Linked DNA regions of Homo sapiens. The protein of the gene in region 2 purifies or fractionates together with the protein of the main gene of each other region. This does not show direct contact. Each region holds a gene or a part of one and is shown on either strand. Other genes may lie near its edges. The genes, in order: OCIAD1, EPG5, STX17, VIPR1, CCKBR and USP8.

What was found.
Region 1: the proteins of EPG5 (region 2) and OCIAD1 purify together in Homo sapiens (co-immunoprecipitation; one large-scale study listed by IntAct). This does not show direct contact.
Region 3: the proteins of EPG5 (region 2) and STX17 purify together in Homo sapiens (affinity purification with western blotting, with the first as the bait; one study listed by BioGRID). This does not show direct contact.
Region 4: the proteins of EPG5 (region 2) and VIPR1 purify together in Homo sapiens (co-immunoprecipitation; one large-scale study listed by IntAct). This does not show direct contact.
Region 5: the proteins of EPG5 (region 2) and CCKBR purify together in Homo sapiens (co-immunoprecipitation; one large-scale study listed by IntAct). This does not show direct contact.
Region 6: the proteins of EPG5 (region 2) and USP8 purify together in Homo sapiens (affinity purification with western blotting; one study listed by BioGRID). This does not show direct contact.

The regions. Positions count from the first base shown.
Region 1 is NC_000004.12:48,834,088-48,837,587, forward strand, and holds part of OCIAD1 (OCIA domain-containing protein 1), read left to right. Parts: intron 1-3,500. UniProt on the Homo sapiens protein: Maintains stem cell potency. Increases STAT3 phosphorylation and controls ERK phosphorylation. May act as a scaffold, increasing STAT3 recruitment onto endosomes. Involved in integrin-mediated cancer cell adhesion and colony formation in ovarian cancer.
Region 2 is NC_000018.10:45,950,330-45,953,829, forward strand, and holds part of EPG5 (ectopic P granules protein 5 homolog), read right to left. Parts: exon of another isoform or gene 2,926-3,500; intron 2,315-2,925; coding exon 2,071-2,314; intron 910-2,070; coding exon 773-909; intron 1-772. UniProt on the Homo sapiens protein: Involved in autophagy. May play a role in a late step of autophagy, such as clearance of autophagosomal cargo.
Region 3 is NC_000009.12:99,962,154-99,965,653, forward strand, and holds part of STX17 (syntaxin-17), read left to right. Parts: intron 1-3,500. UniProt on the Homo sapiens protein: SNAREs, soluble N-ethylmaleimide-sensitive factor-attachment protein receptors, are essential proteins for fusion of cellular membranes.
Region 4 is NC_000003.12:42,535,856-42,538,068, forward strand, and holds the end of VIPR1 (vasoactive intestinal polypeptide receptor 1 isoform 1 precursor), read left to right. Parts: intron 1-234; coding exon 235-426; 3' UTR 427-1,713; downstream 1,714-2,213. UniProt on the Homo sapiens protein: G protein-coupled receptor activated by the neuropeptides vasoactive intestinal peptide (VIP) and pituitary adenylate cyclase-activating polypeptide (ADCYAP1/PACAP).
Region 5 is NC_000011.10:6,269,838-6,272,627, forward strand, and holds the end of CCKBR (gastrin/cholecystokinin type B receptor), read left to right. Parts: coding exon 1-83; intron 84-250; coding exon 251-500; intron 501-808; coding exon 809-966; coding exon of another isoform or gene 967-1,173; coding exon 1,174-1,706; 3' UTR 1,707-2,290; downstream 2,291-2,790. UniProt on the Homo sapiens protein: Receptor for gastrin and cholecystokinin. The CCK-B receptors occur throughout the central nervous system where they modulate anxiety, analgesia, arousal, and neuroleptic activity.
Region 6 is NC_000015.10:50,476,405-50,479,904, forward strand, and holds part of USP8 (ubiquitin carboxyl-terminal hydrolase 8), read left to right. Parts: intron 1-444; coding exon 445-589; intron 590-871; coding exon 872-1,095; intron 1,096-3,500. UniProt on the Homo sapiens protein: Hydrolase that can remove conjugated ubiquitin from proteins and therefore plays an important regulatory role at the level of protein turnover by preventing degradation. Converts both 'Lys-48' an 'Lys-63'-linked ubiquitin chains.

The DNA.
Region 1 (3,500 bases), on a different chromosome or scaffold from region 2:
TCACTATTTAACAAAGAATTGGTATTGCTTTACTTGGAAACTGTAGTCCTTTCAGGTAAAAAGGAGGATGAATTTTTTTTTGTTTTTGTTTTTGTTTTTTTGAGATGGAGCTTCGCTCTTGTTGCCCAGGCTGGAGTACAATGGTGTGATCTCAGCTCACTGCAACTTCTGCCTCCTGGGTTCAAGCGATTCTCCTGCCTCAGCCTCCTGAGTAGCTGGGATTACAGGCATGTGCAACCATGCCCAGCAAATTTTTCTATTTCTAGTAGAAGCGGGATTTCACCATGTTGGCCAGGCTGGTCTTGAACTCCTGACCTTAGGTGATCTGCCTTGGCCTCCCAAAGTGCTGGGATTATAGGCGTGAGCCACCATGCCTGGCAAATTTTTTTTTAAAAAAGGCAACTTGGCACGGTGCCTCATGGCTATAATTGCAGCACTTTGGGAGGCTGAGGCAGGAGGATTGCTTGAGCCCAGAAGTTCAAGACCAGCGTGGGCAACATAGAGGGGCCTTGTCTCTACCAAAAATGAAAGAAATTAGCTGGGTGTGGTGATACGTAGCTGTAATCGCAACCATTTGGGAGGCTGAGGCTGAGGTAGGAGGATCCCTTGAGCTGGGTACATAGAGGCTGCTGCAGTGAGCTATGATCACATCACTGCATTCCAGCCTGGGTGACAGAGCCAGACCCTGTCTCAAAGAAAAGAAAAAAAGGGCAACTTAAGCCATTAAGGAGGATGTATGTTTTCATCAGTCAGCCTGATATGTATGCTTAAAATGTGCAAGGTACCTGTTGGGAAGATAAGTTTTATGAAAGACAGACTTTGTCCTGAATTAATTTTCTTTTTTGTTTGTTTGTTTTTGTTTTTGAGACGGAGTCTCACTCTCTTCCCCAGGCTGGAGTGCAGTGGTGTGATCTCTGCTCACGTCAACATCCTTCTCCTGGGTTCAAGTGATTCTCCTGCCACAGTGTCCTGAGTATCTGGGACTACAGGCGTGCGCCACCATGCCCGGCTAATTTTTGTATTTTCAGTAGAGACTGGGTTTCACTATGTTGGCCAGGCTGATCTCGAACTCCTGACCTCAGTTGATTCACCTGCCTTGGCCTCCGAAAGTGCTGGGATTACAGGTGTGAGCCACTGCGCCTGGCCCTGAAGTAGTTTTATATGTGGTGAGACAAAGCTAATACATGAAACACTTAGAGATTAAGTGTGTAACTGCAGAAGACTTTTTAAAGAGATAAATTAATTAGAATTGACTTACTGAAATTGAAAAATTTGAATAACTTTTGAGATTTTAAAACTCAAAATTTTCTCAAAATTTTACCAAATTTCAATTTGGTAAAAACTGAAGCCTCTTACAATTTTACAGTTGTGTTTTTCTGTAACATAAGGTGGAATACCTGAGTTGGAAAAAGACCTTTATTTGTTAAGCAAACAATACTTTAACAACTTTATAATAGTACTGTAGGCCAGGTATGGTGGCTCACACCTGTAATCCCAGCACCTTGGTTTTGTTTTGTTTTTTATTTTTGTAGATACTAGGTTTTGCCATGTTGCCCAGGCTAATCTTGAACCCCTGAGTTCAAGCGATCTGCCTGCCTTGGCCTCCCCAAATGGTGGAATTTCAAGCATGAGCCACTGAACCTGGCCCCAGCACATTGGGTGGTTGAGGCAGGAGGATCGCCTGAGACCAGGAGTTTGAGACCAGCCTTGGCAACATAGTGAGACCCTGTCCCTAATCCCCCAACAACAACAACAAAAGAATTAATAGTTAATAAGTAGATAAGTGAAGAGGAAAGGTGGAGTAGCATTTGGAAGAAAGGAGTAGTGAACAAAGGCAGAGTTTGCAATAACTTCATCTCTGCTGGAGCGGTGAGCCTGAATTGATTGGAACAGAGGTCTTTCATTGAGGATAGAACGTAAAACATAGTAATGAGTTAAAGGTTTGATCCATTATATCGTTTAGGTTCTTGAGCAGAGGGGGGTGATATGTAAGGTTTTTTTTAAGGAAGGTTAGTTAACAGTGTGCAAGATGGGTAGAAGGGTGAGAAGTTGTACTTGGTAAAATCTGTTTTGAGCTTTTGGCAGTAACTTAGGCATATATATGTAGTCAACGATGAGATATAGTTGATTAGTGTGTCATTTGGACTGGAAAAGATGAGCTGGCAACGAAAGACTTTTTAAAGGACAAATAAAAGGATTTTTTAAAAAGTTCGACTAAGGGGGAATGAAGGAATGGTAAGAGGGAGGTAATAGCTTTAAGATAACCAGCTTAGGAGACTCAATGATACCTCTGAATAAAAGGTTCATTTAGAAGGAGTTCTTGTTTGAAGATGAGTTTAGTTCAGACGTTTTGAGTTCATGGTGCAACATTCGATTGTCGAAGATTTCTAAGCAACTACAGATAGAAACAAAAGCATACATGAAAAATTAGTTTATTGTGGAGTTGTGTTGGTGAATTCGCCAATAAATTAAGTGTAGAGATAAAAGCATAAAACTGATAATAGTTTCTGCCCTGTGATTAATACTTAGGATTGATAGAATAAAGGATAAAGTTTGGATAGTACCCATGGATAAGGGAACAAGTGATAGTGAAAGAATCAACAAAGACCAAGAGCAGTTAGGAAGATAGAGGAGCTCTGATAGAATCTTTGTCATTTTATCCACCAATATTCAGAGACTTGCAGGTATTTCAAGCTAGAAAGAACCTGAATAAGAATTAGGTGATGATGTCCATTTTAAATTTATGATGACTATGCATCTAAAACAGTTATTCTCAACTGGGAGCAGAATAACTGGAACGAGTTGAGAATAATTGTTATAGATGCATAGTCATCATAAAGTAAGGGCTTCTATAAAATTTTCATGGCTCATTAGAATGGGAATAATTTCTTTCTTTTTTTTTGAGACGGAGTCTCGCTCTATCCCCCAGGCTGGAGTACGGTGGTGCAATCTTGGCTCACTGCAAGCTCCGCCTCCTGGGTTCATACCATTCTCCTGCCTCAGCCTCCCGAGTAGCTGGGATTACAGGCGCCTGCCACCATACCTGGCTATTTTTTTTTGTATTTTTACTAGAGATGGGGTTTCACCGTGTTAACCAGGATGGTCTCCATCTCCTGACCTTGTGATCCACCTGCCTCGGCCTCCCAAAGTGCTGGGATTACAGACGTAAGCCATCGTTTTTTTTTTTTTGTTTTTTTTTCTTTTTTCGGTGTTCTTTTTTTTGTGACTGGGTTTCACTCTTGTTGCCCAGGCTGGAATGCAATGGCACAGTCTTGGCTCACTGCAACCCCTGCCTCCTGGGTTCAAGCAATTCTCCTGCCTCAGCTTCCCAAGTAGCTGGGCTTATAGGCGCCTGCCACCATGCTCAGCTAATTTTTGTATTTTTGGTAGAGAAGGAGTTTCACCATGTTGGCCAGGCTGGTCTCGAGCTCCTGACCTTGTGATCTGCCCACCTCGGCCTCACAAAGTTCTGGGATTACAAGCATGAGCCACTGTGCCTG
Region 2 (3,500 bases):
CTCCATTGTGGGAGAGACCCAGTGGGAGGTAACTGAATCATGGGGGCCGGTCTTTCCCATGCTATTCTCATGATAGTGAATAAGTCTCACGAGATCTGATGGGTTTATCAGGGGTTTCTGCTCTTGCTTCTTCCTCATTCTCTCTTGCCACCACCATGTACGAAGTGCCTTTTGCCCTCCACCATGATTCTGAGACCTCCTCAGCCATATGGAACTGTAAGTCAAACTAAACCTCCTTTTCTTCCCAGTCTCAGGTATGTCTTTATCAGCAGCATGAAAAAGGACTAATACATTTGGGGCTGAAACATAAGTCTGAACACAATATTCATTTGTAATTCTGTACCTGAGACAAAGTTTCTATTAAGTACTTAGGTGTGGAATTTTCCACTTGTGGCATCGTATCAGCACTCAAAAAGTTTGGAATTTTGGATCATTTCAGATTTCTGAATTAGGAATCCTCAACCTGTACCTATATTCTGAATATACATCTAGTCTTCAATTTCGCATACTTCCTGCATTTCCATTTCTTTCAAAGCTGAAGTCCAGAGTTCATTTAGCATAATCTTTACTAGAGAGAAACATACTTTGTGCTCAATAATGCACTAGATAAATAACTTACTACCATGTATCATGATCAAAGAAAAGTCATTAATAAACTCATCAAATAAATTAGCTGAAAAAGTTGAAGACCAAATGTAATGATATAACAGATAATTCCTAAATTATGAAAGAAATAAAACAAAGACTACTGTGTCTATCTCTGTCCCCTTACCAATTTCTGCAGCCAGAGAAGAATATCATCATGAAACTGAGTATCTTCATTAACTCTCCTGGTGAACATGAATAAGACACTAATGCATTCCTTTAGTTGACACAGATCAGAGGGAATGCTTTCTGTCTGCTTAGACGCTGTAAATGAAAGATATTAAATGAGTCTCTCATAAATGGTGTTTTTGGGGGAATTTTTAGTGTCTTCACTTAAACCAATAACAACAAAAACCTTTAAAATATTTAGTGCAGATAAAAGGAGAAAAGTTACATCAAAATACTTAAATTTTTATAAACAGACAAGTCAAAAATGTGTTTAACTTTGAAGTATTTCAAAATAATGGAAAAATCAACCTCATCATAATTTTTTTTTTTTTTTTGACACAGCCTCCACTCTGTCACCCAGGCTGGAATGCAGTGGCGCAATCTTGACTCACTGCAACCTCCGCTTCCTGCGTTCATGCCATTCTCCTGCCTCAGCCTCTTGAGTAGCTGGGATTACTGGTGCCTGCCACTACACCCAGCTAGTTTTTGTATTTTTAGTAGAGAAGGAGTTTCACCATATTGGCCAGGCTGATCTTGAACTCCTGACCTCAAGTGATCCACCCACCTCAGCTTCCCAAATTGCTGGGATTACAGGTGTGAGCCACCACACCCGGCCATAATCCACTATTTTTTATTTGAAAATCAGTACATCTCTGACCTACCCCCAGTTAATTGATTAGTTAAGAAAATGGGGGAGGGGGAATTTTACTTTAAAGTACCCTAATACATCCCCCAGAAATAAAAATTGCATAATTCAACAAGCATACTTAATATTCATGTCATAAAGACTAATTTCTTAAAATCCAAAATAAGATGAAAAATTCAGAACATTATTAATCCTCTGTTGGAAAATTAAACAAAACAGCCCTACAAACAAAGCAGCCCAAACAAACCACAAGAGATAAAGGGTGAAGAAGTATTCCGATGATTACTTTTATAATCAAAAACTATATTTGGACTCAACTTGGTAACAAGCACATTAACTAGGACAGCAAAGGACATTAATGATAGATAGTGAGCTTTTTGGCATCCTAGAGAAGCAGAGAAAGACAGCCACGGAGAAAGGAGACCTGGCAATGCTCCCAAGAAATGTCATTAAGGCAGATCTCAATCCTACAGTGGGGGAGGCCTGGTAAAACTGCAAGCACAAATGGTACCTTGTAAGACCAATTACTATACAGTCAATTCAACCAGGCTATACCCCTCAATTTTTTTTTACTTCAAAACACAAGAAAGAGAGCTTCATTACTTACATACCTCGGCCTTGCTGGTGAATTGCTGAAGATCTCAGAACAGCTGAACTACTGAGCAATGCATAGATGTAAGACTCCACTTGCAATCTTGAGAGCACAGAAGTATAAGAATGAAGGGCCAGGGTCTGGTGGAGGTGCTCAGATTTGGCATCGAATAGCTTCTTTAGCTCCACCAGTGCATTTTCATTCATTTCTACTCTTTGGTAGCGATGATAGCTGAAAACTTTCACTTGATCTGCACAGATACCCTACCAGAGGACAAAAAGGTACAATATGAAACCAGTTACTCTTTCCATTTGAAGTAAGCAGGCAGCAAGTATAAGGTACACAGGCTTCAGTACCATCTTCAAAGAGCTTATAATCATGGTGAGGAGACATATTACTGTGTAGAGAACATTACCAGCAAATATATGATCAGGTGCAAAGGAACAGAAGGCCAATCACAAATACATCGCAAATTCAGAGAAGGGAAGAGTAACTCTAGTAGTCAGCAGTGGGCCAGGCGCGGTGGCTGATGCTTGTAATCCCACCACTTTGGGAGGCCGAGGCAGGTGGATCACGAAGTCAGGAGTTTGAGACCAGCCTGGCCAACACAGTGAAATGCTGTCTCTAACTAAAAATATAAAAATTAGCTGGGCATGGTGGTGGGCGCCTATAATCCCAGCTACTCGGGAGGCTGAAGCAGGAGAATTGCCTGAACCCGGGAGGTAGAGGTTGCAGTGGGCCAAGATTACGCCACTGCACTCCAGCCTGGGCGACAGAGCTAGACTCCATCTAAAAAAAAAGTAGTAGTCAGCAGTGAAAGCTGCAAGAAAATAATAGAACTTGTCCCTAAGACTTTCATGATTGATGATCTTACCTTCTATTTTATGAATATGAAGCCAATGTGATATCTCCAAAACTTCAAGGTATCTCAAAACATCTCTGGATCTACCCTCATCATTCTTCATAGTTCTACTCAAGAGAATACACACTCCACCAGCTGTGTTCTTGATTCTATCCTCTCTTCTTCAATACAGTATTTCCAAATATTTCCCTCCTTACTATGTACAGAGATATACAGGTCTGCCAATGAATGAGGATTAGGGATAGGGGAATGACATGTTTCTCCCCAATATCCCCTCCAGCTTCCCTTCACTGCCAAACTTGTCAAGAGTAACCTCTTCTTCCTTGCCATCTCTCCTAAGCCACTATGAAATGGCTTATGATCACTTTGGCCTCCATAGGGTTGCATCTAATGGTCTTCTCCATCCCCTCTCAAACTTGAGAGGACGTCTCCCCCTTCCTTTGGGGGCTCTGTGTTACACATCAGGGACTCTCCATTGCTTATAGTTAAGAAGGTGAGTTTCACTCTCATTTTGTCCACTGGCATCATCCTGGAGCTAGGAATCAGTTACTACCTTCAGATTCCTCATCCCCACTCAATGGGGAAGA
Region 3 (3,500 bases), on a different chromosome or scaffold from region 2:
TGCTTATGTTCCATATTCTGAATATTTTCTTGAAATGTGTTACCTAAAATTGAATGCAGTAAATTGTTTGAATTGCTTCTGGATGCCTCTAAGTTAGAAGAAGCAAAATATTTGAAGTTTCTGGATTAGGTATCTGTACAATATTAATATACTCGCAAACAGAAGGAAATAATAGAACAAGAATCCCAAAATATCTGTTGTTTCAGAATCAACATTTATTCAACTATTGTAAACTAATAATCTCTGAATCCAGTGCAGTTTGTAAAACCTATACATGTATGGTTACACAAATATATACACTTGCCAAAAGTCATTGGTCTGTACACATAAAATGTGTTTTAATATATGTAAATTATACCTCAATAAAGCTGATTTTAAAAAACAAACTACACATGTACAAAGTTCTTACTCAGTACAAACACATTTCTTTTCTACTGGGATAGGCACATAAAAGAAATATTAAAGGTCTGTGACCATAAGATAGTTACATGTTTGATTATATTATGTAAGCAGCTCATAACCTCTAATCTAAGGGAGATTTGTGTAGGAAAACTCTGGCTGTAGCCACAGCTCTATACAAATGTCCTGTTTGTAATAATCTGTTTAAGTACATGAGACAGAATGCTAATAAGCAAAAGCTCAAAGGAGAACCCCTGATTATTATTCCCAGGGTGACTAAGTTCTCATGACCACATGGCCAAGGATTCACAGAAGCTCTATTTAGGCACAGAATGACCTAGGAACATAACCAGAGTGACCACATCCTCTCATTATCATCACATGGACATGATAGTGTCTAGACAAATTAACCATGTATTTAAGGAACACTTTCTATCTGCGTAGCACTGTGCTAAGCTTAATGAGGAATAGAAAAAAGCATTTAAAAAACTTACAAGATAGTAATAGTGGTTGCACAATATTGTGAAGTTACTTATTGCCACTAAATTGTACACTTCAAAATGGTTAAAATGGTAAATTTATGTTATATTTATTTTACCACTATAAAAAGAACTTACAAAGCCATTGACAGATCAAGGTATAGTACAATAAATGTTAATAAATTAATATCTACTAGGTACCCTGCTCTATTTTTCTTCAGCCTTTGTTGTTCAAGTGCCCTCTTCTCTCCCTATAACTTTGTAACTAGCCCTATTTCTAGTCAAGGAGAATTTAAAGAACCCTGGGCCAGTAGTTCAGTAACAACTCACCCTTGCTGCTAGTCTGTTTTGACTTCTGCCTTTTGCCTTATTCCCTGTCGTTTTTGTAATCCAGTTTTACTCTGGAAACATAAAAACTGGTTGCAATGGATTAGATCAGATTCCTTCATTTATTACCTATGTGACCTTCAGGATGTTATTTGACAACAATGAGCTTTATAACACTGATGGGAGGACTAAATGAGGTAATGTGTATTATTAAGTACTTCCCATTCTGTTCCCTTCCACTGACCCCAACTGCATTCCCACTTTTGTCCTTCCTTTATTTTCATTCCTTGTTTGGCTCCTTGCAAAAATTCTACTTTTTCCACCACTATTATCCTTAGGCATTTTAGTACTGGAATTCCTTCAGTCCCTTTCCAACTGCTGAATCCTCTGTTAGCAACATCCTACTTATCTACTCTGCTTATTGCTTACTCGAAGCCAATATAATCACTTATTTTGCCTATATATCATAGTATTTATAAGTTTGTTTCTGGGCCTTTTTGTGTATATGATTGCATATGATTAAGGAGTATATAGAATATATCATAGGAGTTTAGAACCAGAATAGCTCAATGTGAACAGGATTGGTCAAGATCTAAGATTAGAACTTGGCCTTGAAGGCTGGCTGGAATTTAGAGAGGAATAAATGGACGTACCTGGAGTTTTGGTATTACCCTCTTAAATAAACTCGTAGCTTTCCAAGAACCTTAAACTTTACAACTACTATCAGAACTCTCTATGGAAGACCACTGTTAATGATATAAATGGATTTGGGGGTTAATTTTTGAATGTATTATTATTGCTTGACATAGAGGATGCTAGGCCTACAAGTGTCCCCAACAGGCATTCAAGAACAAAACAGTTCATTGGTTTTGAATTTATATTCCCAAATTGCATTCTGCTTGACAAGTATAATAAATCACAGTTTATACAGAAACTTAGGTACTCCTATAGCTGTTCGTCAAGATTTGTTATGTTCAGGCCAATAGGGGGACTTAATTCAATGTTCTTTAAAATGAAATCCGTAGACATATTCTTAGAGTCATTTGAGAATTTTCTTTTTCTGTAAAAGGAGGTCAGTATATTACTCTAGCTTGAGAAACACTGCAGTGTAATGAGCTAAACACTTAAATATGGTTTAGCTCATTGTTAAAGGAATGCTGAGAACATATATGGGGTGCCAAACTATAAAATGGCAGGTATGGAATTTGAAGATTGTCAAATGTGGGAGGCCTAAGCAGATGAAAATAAACATGAGCAAATCAGAAGCAAAACCTCAGGGGAGATTGATAGATAGAGGTTAGGAGGCTCCTGCACCACCATTAATGTTTAGAGCTTGATTTCACAGGCTGGGGCAGGGTTGTATATGTATCTTTTGGTCCCACAAAAAGAGCCAAGGACATAGTGGACAGGTAGTGACCCAATTCAGCTCTGTATGGAGTCTGGTTTGGCATTCTGCTGATGGTAATTGACAACTCTGTGACAATAGTTTGCTGCCTAACTGTAACCTTTGTGGGGGTCAGTGAGTCCTCCTTACTCAAGAAGCAGAATTTGAAGATATGGGCAAAGTTTGAAGTTGCAAACCAAGCAAAATACGGACAAGAGAAAGGCAGACGTGCACAATCGAGGGGTGATTATTGATCCCAGGATAGGGGCTGTCTGCCCTCTGCCTTATTCCCACACCCCAGCCCCATATCTTAGCATGCTTTCTGATGGCATGAATAAATACTTATAGATGTGGGCTACTCCCCAGGGTGGGATGGGCCTCATCAAATGCTGGTGATTGCAATGATGGGGAACTTTGTAGTTCAAATAATTAGTGATCTCAGGATTGGTTTTTTGCCTGTGGTTGCTTCTTCAGTTATTCCAAATGATTTTTATGAAAAAATATTTAAATTATTTTAAAATTTTGCTTTAATTTTTAAAAAGTCATAGAAGTACAATATCCAACCCTTTTTAAAGGAAGGAACATTAGAAAGTATTTCCCTGAGGCTTTACGATTACACTTGGGGTATAGAAATGGCAATAATCCTGGCAGGCTCCTCCCTCTTGCTGGAATTATTTTGGGGCTGAAGGAAGGGAGACACTGACTATTTTTCCTCTACCTTTCAACTCATCAACATATGACGGCTGATGGTAGAGTTTTAAGCCTGTGATTTATCTGCTAGCATAGACTGTTTCAGGCAAGAGTGGAAAGTGTTGGGGGTGTCCTAAATAGAAACAATGATAGGGTGTCAGAAATCTAGACAAGTTGTATATTATTAGTGCTGGAACTTTTTCTTCTATGGGTCAGAAAAA
Region 4 (2,213 bases), on a different chromosome or scaffold from region 2:
CTGTATTCTAGGATCCTCTCTGCCTCTTACCTCCTGCCATTCCAAGGCCTCCTTCTGAACCTGGCCTCAACCCAGTCCCAAGTTTGCACCGCCCGAGGCAGCATAGGGGTCCCTCCATTTTGATTTCCTAAAGAGAATAAGACTGGCTAGTTCAGAACCCTAAGTCCAGGGCAGCCCAATCAGCAGTGGAAGAGGCTCCACAGCAGTGGGCCTGACCACCTTCCCCTCTCCTAGGTGCAGGCGGAGCTGAGGCGGAAGTGGCGGCGCTGGCACCTGCAGGGCGTCCTGGGCTGGAACCCCAAATACCGGCACCCGTCGGGAGGCAGCAACGGCGCCACGTGCAGCACGCAGGTTTCCATGCTGACCCGCGTCAGCCCAGGTGCCCGCCGCTCCTCCAGCTTCCAAGCCGAAGTCTCCCTGGTCTGACCACCAGGATCCCAGGGGCCCAAGGCGGCCCCTCCCGCCCCTTCCCACTCACCCCGGCAGACGCCGGGGACAGAGGCCTGCCCGGGCGCGGCCAGCCCCGGCCCTGGGCTCGGAGGCTGCCCCCGGCCCCCTGGTCTCTGGTCCGGACACTCCTAGAGAACGCAGCCCTAGAGCCTGCCTGGAGCGTTTCTAGCAAGTGAGAGAGATGGGAGCTCCTCTCCTGGAGGATTGCAGGTGGAACTCAGTCATTAGACTCCTCCTCCAAAGGCCCCCTACGCCAATCAAGGGCAAAAAGTCTACATACTTTCATCCTGACTCTGCCCCCTGCTGGCTCTTCTGCCCAATTGGAGGAAAGCAACCGGTGGATCCTCAAACAACACTGGTGTGACCTGAGGGCAGAAAGGTTCTGCCCGGGAAGGTCACCAGCACCAACACCACGGTAGTGCCTGAAATTTCACCATTGCTGTCAAGTTCCTTTGGGTTAAGCATTACCACTCAGGCATTTGACTGAAGATGCAGCTCACTACCCTATTCTCTCTTTACGCTTAGTTATCAGCTTTTTAAAGTGGGTTATTCTGGAGTTTTTGTTTGGAGAGCACACCTATCTTAGTGGTTCCCCACCGAAGTGGACTGGCCCCTGGGTCAGTCTGGTGGGAGGACGGTGCAACCCAAGGACTGAGGGACTCTGAAGCCTCTGGGAAATGAGAAGGCAGCCACCAGCGAATGCTAGGTCTCGGACTAAGCCTACCTGCTCTCCAAGTCTCAGTGGCTTCATCTGTCAAGTGGGATCTGTCACACCAGCCATACTTATCTCTCTGTGCTGTGGAAGCAACAGGAATCAAGAGCTGCCCTCCTTGTCCACCCACCTATGTGCCAACTGTTGTAACTAGGCTCAGAGATGTGCACCCATGGGCTCTGACAGAAAGCAGATACCTCACCCTGCTACACATACAGGATTTGAACTCAGATCTGTCTGATAGGAATGTGAAAGCACGGACTCTTACTGCTAACTTTTGTGTATCGTAACCAGCCAGATCCTCTTGGTTATTTGTTTACCACTTGTATTATTAATGCCATTATCCCTGAATCCCCCTTGCCACCCCACCCTCCCTGGAGTGTGGCTGAGGAGGCCTCCATCTCATGTATCATCTGGATAGGAGCCTGCTGGTCACAGCCTCCTCTGTCTGCCCTTCACCCCAGTGGCCACTCAGCTTCCTACCCACACCTCTGCCAGAAGATCCCCTCAGGACTGCAACAGGCTTGTGCAACAATAAATGTTGGCTTGGATTGGCTTGGTTCCCCTGGTGGTTGATATTCTCATATGGCCTAAAATGGGACCAGCTTCCAACTTGGAGCCATCTTCCTCCACCCAAAGGATGGGTGATCTAATACATTACTGAAACCAGATGCCTCAACTCTTTTGGCTTTTGACAGAAATCCATATTTTCATATGAGGCATTCACAGTTCTGAGGGCCTTCAGCTCCCATCTTTTTGAGTGGTATCCTCTCTCCTCTGAGTGTGATGAAGACCAGGTCCCCATTGTGTCCCCCCACTCCTTAAATCCAGCCAAGAAAAGACCATTCTAATCTCAGATCAATACAAAACAGCTGGCAGAGCTGCCCAGGGTCCCAGAAATGGTTGAGTGTGAGTGTTTCACAGGCCGCAGACATTGCTGCAAACAAGGGTCTAGGATGACCATGTTGCAATTACCCAGGGCTCAGCTAAGAGGAGGTAGGTAGTGGACAAAACAAATGTCACCAACACAAGTTGAGTGAGCAGAGACAAT
Region 5 (2,790 bases), on a different chromosome or scaffold from region 2:
CATGCCCTTCACCCTCCTGCCCAATCTCATGGGCACATTCATCTTTGGCACCGTCATCTGCAAGGCGGTTTCCTACCTCATGGGTGGGTGAGACAACCACCCCACCCCCACTTGCCACTCTCCCCGCCTAAAGCTCTTGTGGATGTAGGGGTCTTCCCCGGTTGGCAGGGAGGGGTGTGAGGAAGTCCCACTGATGCTTGTGTAGTGCAAGTTTCCTAGGTGACTCCTTCCTTTCTCTTCCCTTGTTTAGGGGTGTCTGTGAGTGTGTCCACGCTAAGCCTCGTGGCCATCGCACTGGAGCGGTACAGCGCCATCTGCCGACCACTGCAGGCACGAGTGTGGCAGACGCGCTCCCACGCGGCTCGCGTGATTGTAGCCACGTGGCTGCTGTCCGGACTACTCATGGTGCCCTACCCCGTGTACACTGTCGTGCAACCAGTGGGGCCTCGTGTGCTGCAGTGCGTGCATCGCTGGCCCAGTGCGCGGGTCCGCCAGACCTGGTGAGCTTGCCCATAAACTATCCTAGGAATTCCTTTCTCACCCCTATTAGATGCTTACGACCATTGCCCAGAATCTTCCTCCAGCTTCCCGGAGAATTACCACGCCAACTCCTATTCTGCATCCACCACCCTGGAGTTCCAGTTTGGGGCCCCTCCCCAGTTCTCTCTCCCTTCCCAGCGGCACCCCCAAATCCTACTCCTACTTCAGGTACCTGGCCACAGCCCTAGAAACACTAGTCCTTGGCTTTTTCTCCATCTGTGATTACAGCTGGACAGAAACCCGAGTGATCTGTCTGTGTTGCCTTCAGGTCCGTACTGCTGCTTCTGCTCTTGTTCTTCATCCCGGGTGTGGTTATGGCCGTGGCCTACGGGCTTATCTCTCGCGAGCTCTACTTAGGGCTTCGCTTTGACGGCGACAGTGACAGCGACAGCCAAAGCAGGGTCCGAAACCAAGGCGGGCTGCCAGGTGGGGCTGGACCACGTGAGCAAAATCTGGGCGAGGCGGAGCTTTGGAGGGCGACGGGGCCTGCTGGAGTGGGTGGGACTGAAATGAAGGTGAGGGTGAGAAGGAAGCTGGAAATGGAGTTGAGCTGGGAGCGGAGGTCAGGTGGGGACTGGGCTGGAGACTGGGGGGACTCGCCTTTTTCTCTGACCGCCCACCCTTTGTGCTCAGGGGCTGTTCACCAGAACGGGCGTTGCCGGCCTGAGACTGGCGCGGTTGGCGAAGACAGCGATGGCTGCTACGTGCAACTTCCACGTTCCCGGCCTGCCCTGGAGCTGACGGCGCTGACGGCTCCTGGGCCGGGATCCGGCTCCCGGCCCACCCAGGCCAAGCTGCTGGCTAAGAAGCGCGTGGTGCGAATGTTGCTGGTGATCGTTGTGCTTTTTTTTCTGTGTTGGTTGCCAGTTTATAGTGCCAACACGTGGCGCGCCTTTGATGGCCCGGGTGCACACCGAGCACTCTCGGGTGCTCCTATCTCCTTCATTCACTTGCTGAGCTACGCCTCGGCCTGTGTCAACCCCCTGGTCTACTGCTTCATGCACCGTCGCTTTCGCCAGGCCTGCCTGGAAACTTGCGCTCGCTGCTGCCCCCGGCCTCCACGAGCTCGCCCCAGGGCTCTTCCCGATGAGGACCCTCCCACTCCCTCCATTGCTTCGCTGTCCAGGCTTAGCTACACCACCATCAGCACACTGGGCCCTGGCTGAGGAGTAGAGGGGCCGTGGGGGTTGAGGCAGGGCAAATGACATGCACTGACCCTTCCAGACATACGAAACACAAACCACAACTGACACAGGAAACCAACACCCAAAGCATGGACTAACCCCAACGCACAGGAAAAGGTAGCTTACCTGACACAAGAGGAATAAGAATGGAGCAGTACATGGGAAAGGAGGCATGCCTCTGATATGGGACTGAGCCTGGCCCATAGAAACATGACACTGACCTTGGAGAGACACAGCGTCCCTAGCAGTGAACTATTTCTACACAGTGGGAACTCTGACAAGGGCTGACCTGCCTCTCACACACATAGATTAATGGCACTGATTGTTTTAGAGACTATGGAGCCTGGCACAGGACTGATTCTGGGATGCTCCTAGTTTGACCTCACAGTGACCCTTCCCAATCAGCACTGAAAATACCATCAGGCCTAATCTCATACCTCTGACCAACAGGCTGTTCTGCACTGAAAAGGTTCTTCATCCCTTTCCAGTTAAGGACCGTGGCCCTGCCCTCTCCTTCCTTACCCAAACTGTTCAAGAAATAATAAATTGTTTGGCTTCCTCCTGAACTTCCTTTCTGGATTCTTCTGGGGCAGGTGAGGAGGCATAGGATTTTGCAGTATCCTTCTGTCGGGTCTCTCCCACTGTTGCACACTGCTGTGCACAACCCCTTGCCAGAAAGCCCAGCCTCTGAGGTTCAGCGTGGCTGTGCATATTCTTTCTGAGTTTTCATCCTCTACCTACATTCCAATGTTGCAATAACTGTGAATGGGGATGGAAAATGGCATATCCATGACATATCATGATTCCTGATCACATTATCCCAAAGTGGTGCCACTGTTAAGGTACTATATTAATGGATGCTTATTAAATTTTGATGAAAAGATAAAAGAGGAAGCACTGTATAATAAGACTAAGTTTATTCAATGTGTGTTTGAAACACCAGAGATCAGACCATGACAGGTATACAGAATGAATACAGTTAATTAAAGAGTAGGGATTTTTTGCTGTACTCTCTTCCCCAGTGTCAAAACCTGGCCAAGATTCTGCCAAATGGAAGCACTTTTAG
Region 6 (3,500 bases), on a different chromosome or scaffold from region 2:
GGGTGATAGAGTGAGACCTTGTCAATCAGTCAACCAGTAGTCGAATATTACCTAGCATTGCAAATGATGATATAGCTCTATAGTGATGAAAGATGTTCATAGAAAAGCAACATCATAAAGGTTTTATTGAAAACTCTCTATAAGAGTAAACTCCAGAATGTAAAGTGGTATTGGGGTGGTGAGGTTATGGGTCATTTTTGTTTTATATTTAGTAATTTATTTTCTAATTTTTCTTCTAAGATCATTGATTATTTGTATGGTTTTTAAAACCTCACCTATATAACCATTTCATTTAATGTTGAATTTTGAATTCAGTTCTCATTTTGTCATTATTTAGAAGATAAATTTTGTCCTTAAGGGAACAACTTTAAAATTTAGATTTGTTGTGTTTTTAGCTGTTGAAAGATTGCTGCCCTATTTAAAATATGATTTCCTTATTTATAGTGGGAAAGTAAAACTGTCCTGCGCAATGAGCCTTTGGTTTTAGAGGGAGGCTATGAAAACTGGCTCCTTTGTTATCCCCAGTATACAACAAATGCTAAGGTCACTCCACCCCCACGACGCCAGAATGAAGAGGTGTCTATCTCATGTATGTATGTGAAAATTTTTGTTTAAAATTGCTTTGGTAAAATATGGTTTAAAATTGTTTTCCCGGTAACATTCTTGGTTGTGTGTGTATTTGTCCTATTAGAGAGCAGTTTGTTTTCAGGCATAAAAATATAAGCCTGGAAGTTCACATTTTCTTTAAGACTGTTGTAATTGTTTTTTCACTTAGTTTACATTTAATTACTGCATTAACACGCATGAGAAATGTAAGTACTGTGTATGGGGTTTGCTATTCTAAAAAACATTTTTATTTTTGGAATTTTAGTGGATTTTACTTATCCCTCATTGGAAGAATCAATTCCTTCTAAACCTGCTGCCCAGACGCCACCTGCATCTATAGAAGTAGATGAAAATATAGAATTGATAAGTGGTCAAAATGAGAGAATGGGACCACTGAATATATCAACTCCAGTTGAACCAGTTGCTGCTTCTAAATCTGATGTTTCACCCATAATTCAGCCAGTGCCTAGTATAAAGAATGTTCCACAGGTATGTTCTTGATTTTAACATTATTCTCGCTTTTGTTTTAATATTAAATATATAGTATAGCTGGGCACAGTGCCTCACGCCTGTAATCCCAGCACTTTGGGAGGCTGAGAGGGGCAGATCACCTGAGGTCAGGAGTTTGAGACCAACCTGGCCAACATGGTGAAACCCCCCTCTCTACTAATAATACAAAAATTAGCTGGGCATGGTGGTGGGTGCCTATAAATCCAGCTGTTTGGGAGGCTGAGGCATGAGAATTGTCTGAACCCAGGAAGCGGAGGTTGCAGTGAGTCGAGATTGCACCACTGCACCCCAGCCTGGGTGACAGCAAGACTCTGTCTCAAAAAAAAAAAAAAGAATTAAATACATAGTATAGAAACGAAGTTTAATATATAACCTTTAACATCTTAGAAAAAAGTATCGATGAGAACAGTCTGTATGTTTTGATAAATTTTTTGTTTAAAAATTTTTCATCATAATTCAGCATTACCGCCACGCCTATATTAGAGTAGATAATTAAGGGGTTTCCAAGCCAGTTGGCGATCCATTTGCTACAAACAATGCCAATGAAAGATTGCATTATCACAGTGAATTAGAATAGCCCTTTTGGGATTTTTTGTATTATAATTTGACCCATATTATTTTCATAAATAGCTTGGCTTACATATGATAGGTATGTGATGTCAGTATTTTGGTTTTAAAACAGTGCTTTAGTTTCATTTCCTTAGAATTTGACACGCAAATAACAGGCATGTTTAACAATAATCATGTAAAAGTTTTTAAATAACCAAGACATTACAAATAAAAAAATTTTAGTTTTTATATCCTTCATTTGGCTTTATTTAAAGAAAGGTTAACTAATGTTCCCCCTCCATGCATTTCCCAATAACATTTTTTAGCATTCATTTTTAATTTTTTCCCCAGATATATTTAAAACAGTATTTCACATTTAAAGTGGATGACGTTTGATTTGTGGAGCAGGTATTGAATAGAAAATCTGGTAATTTTTTGTTATAAACTGAAGTGGTTCATTTCTTCATTTTTTTAAGGTCTTTTAGTATTGCAGAATAAATTGCAGACTAAATAGATGTGATTAAACAACTTTTCTTAAAGGGTGAATTTAGGAAAGTCTAAAAAGAGCTTCTCTATGTTATTGCATTTCCTTTCAACTTAATCTATTTAAACGCTAATCCTTTTGTGTCCCAACATAACTTTATGAGATACGTACAATTTTCAGACATATTTTGAAGATCTTCTATATAAAAAACAGCATGAGGGCTGGGTGCCATGGCTCGTGCCTGTAATCCCAACACTTTAGGAGGCGGAGGCAGGTGGGTCACCTGAGGTCAGGAGTTCCAGACCAGCCTGGTCAACATGGTGAAACCCCATCTCTACTGAAAATACCAAAATTAGCCAGGCGTGGTGGTGCGTGCCTGCAGTCCCAGCTACTCAGGAGGCTGAGGCAGGAGAATCACATGAACCCAGGAAGCAGAGTTGTAGTGAGCCGAGATCAGGCCACTGCACTCCAGCCTGGGTGAGAGTGAGACTCTGTCTCAAAAAAAAATAAAAATAAAAATAAGACAGCATGAAAGTTTGTATATACAAGAGATGGGTTCTTCTGATGTTTGGAAGGAGAGATCTGTATAAAATCAGCCACAGCATAAGGCAGAATATCATAATTGCTCTACAAGGCACTGGAGCACAGAGCAAGGAGAATATTCTAGCTGAGAAGATCAAGGACGTCTTCATGGAGGAGACAGTATTTTATCTGGGCTTTAAGAGTAGGATTGGAGGATAGAAGAAACAAGTAGAAAATTCTATGACCAAAGGCATAGGGCATGCTCTGGGGCCAGTGAACAGTTTTGGCATATGTGGGCGCTAGTCTCTGTTGGAGAGAGGAAGTTATGATAGTAGATAAGATTAGAAGGATGGACAAGAGTCATCAAGAGAGACTTGGATCAAATTTGAATTTTGTCCTGTAGGCACAAGGAACCATTAAAGAATTTTAAACTTGAGAGTAACATGATCATAACTATACTTTTAAAATTAGGGAAAAATAGATCAAGCCACCAAAATGTAAATGGAAACAACATTTATTTTTGTTTCTGTTCCACCTCTTATTGTTAACCTCATCCCCATAGTGGTTCTTCCTACTTTATTCTCAAATACATGCAAAAAAAAAGACAAAGGATTTTTTTTAAGAGGCAGAAAGAGAAGTGAACAGGAAAAAAATTATTTTTTCTACACTAACCTCGTTTTCTTTTTCTTTTCTTTTTTTTTTGAAAACGGTCTCACTCTCTCACCCAGGCTGGAGTGCAGTGGCGTGATCACAGCTCACTGCAGCCTCGACTTCCTGGGTTCAAGCAATCCTCCCACCTCAGCCTCCTGAGTAGCTGGGATTATAGGCA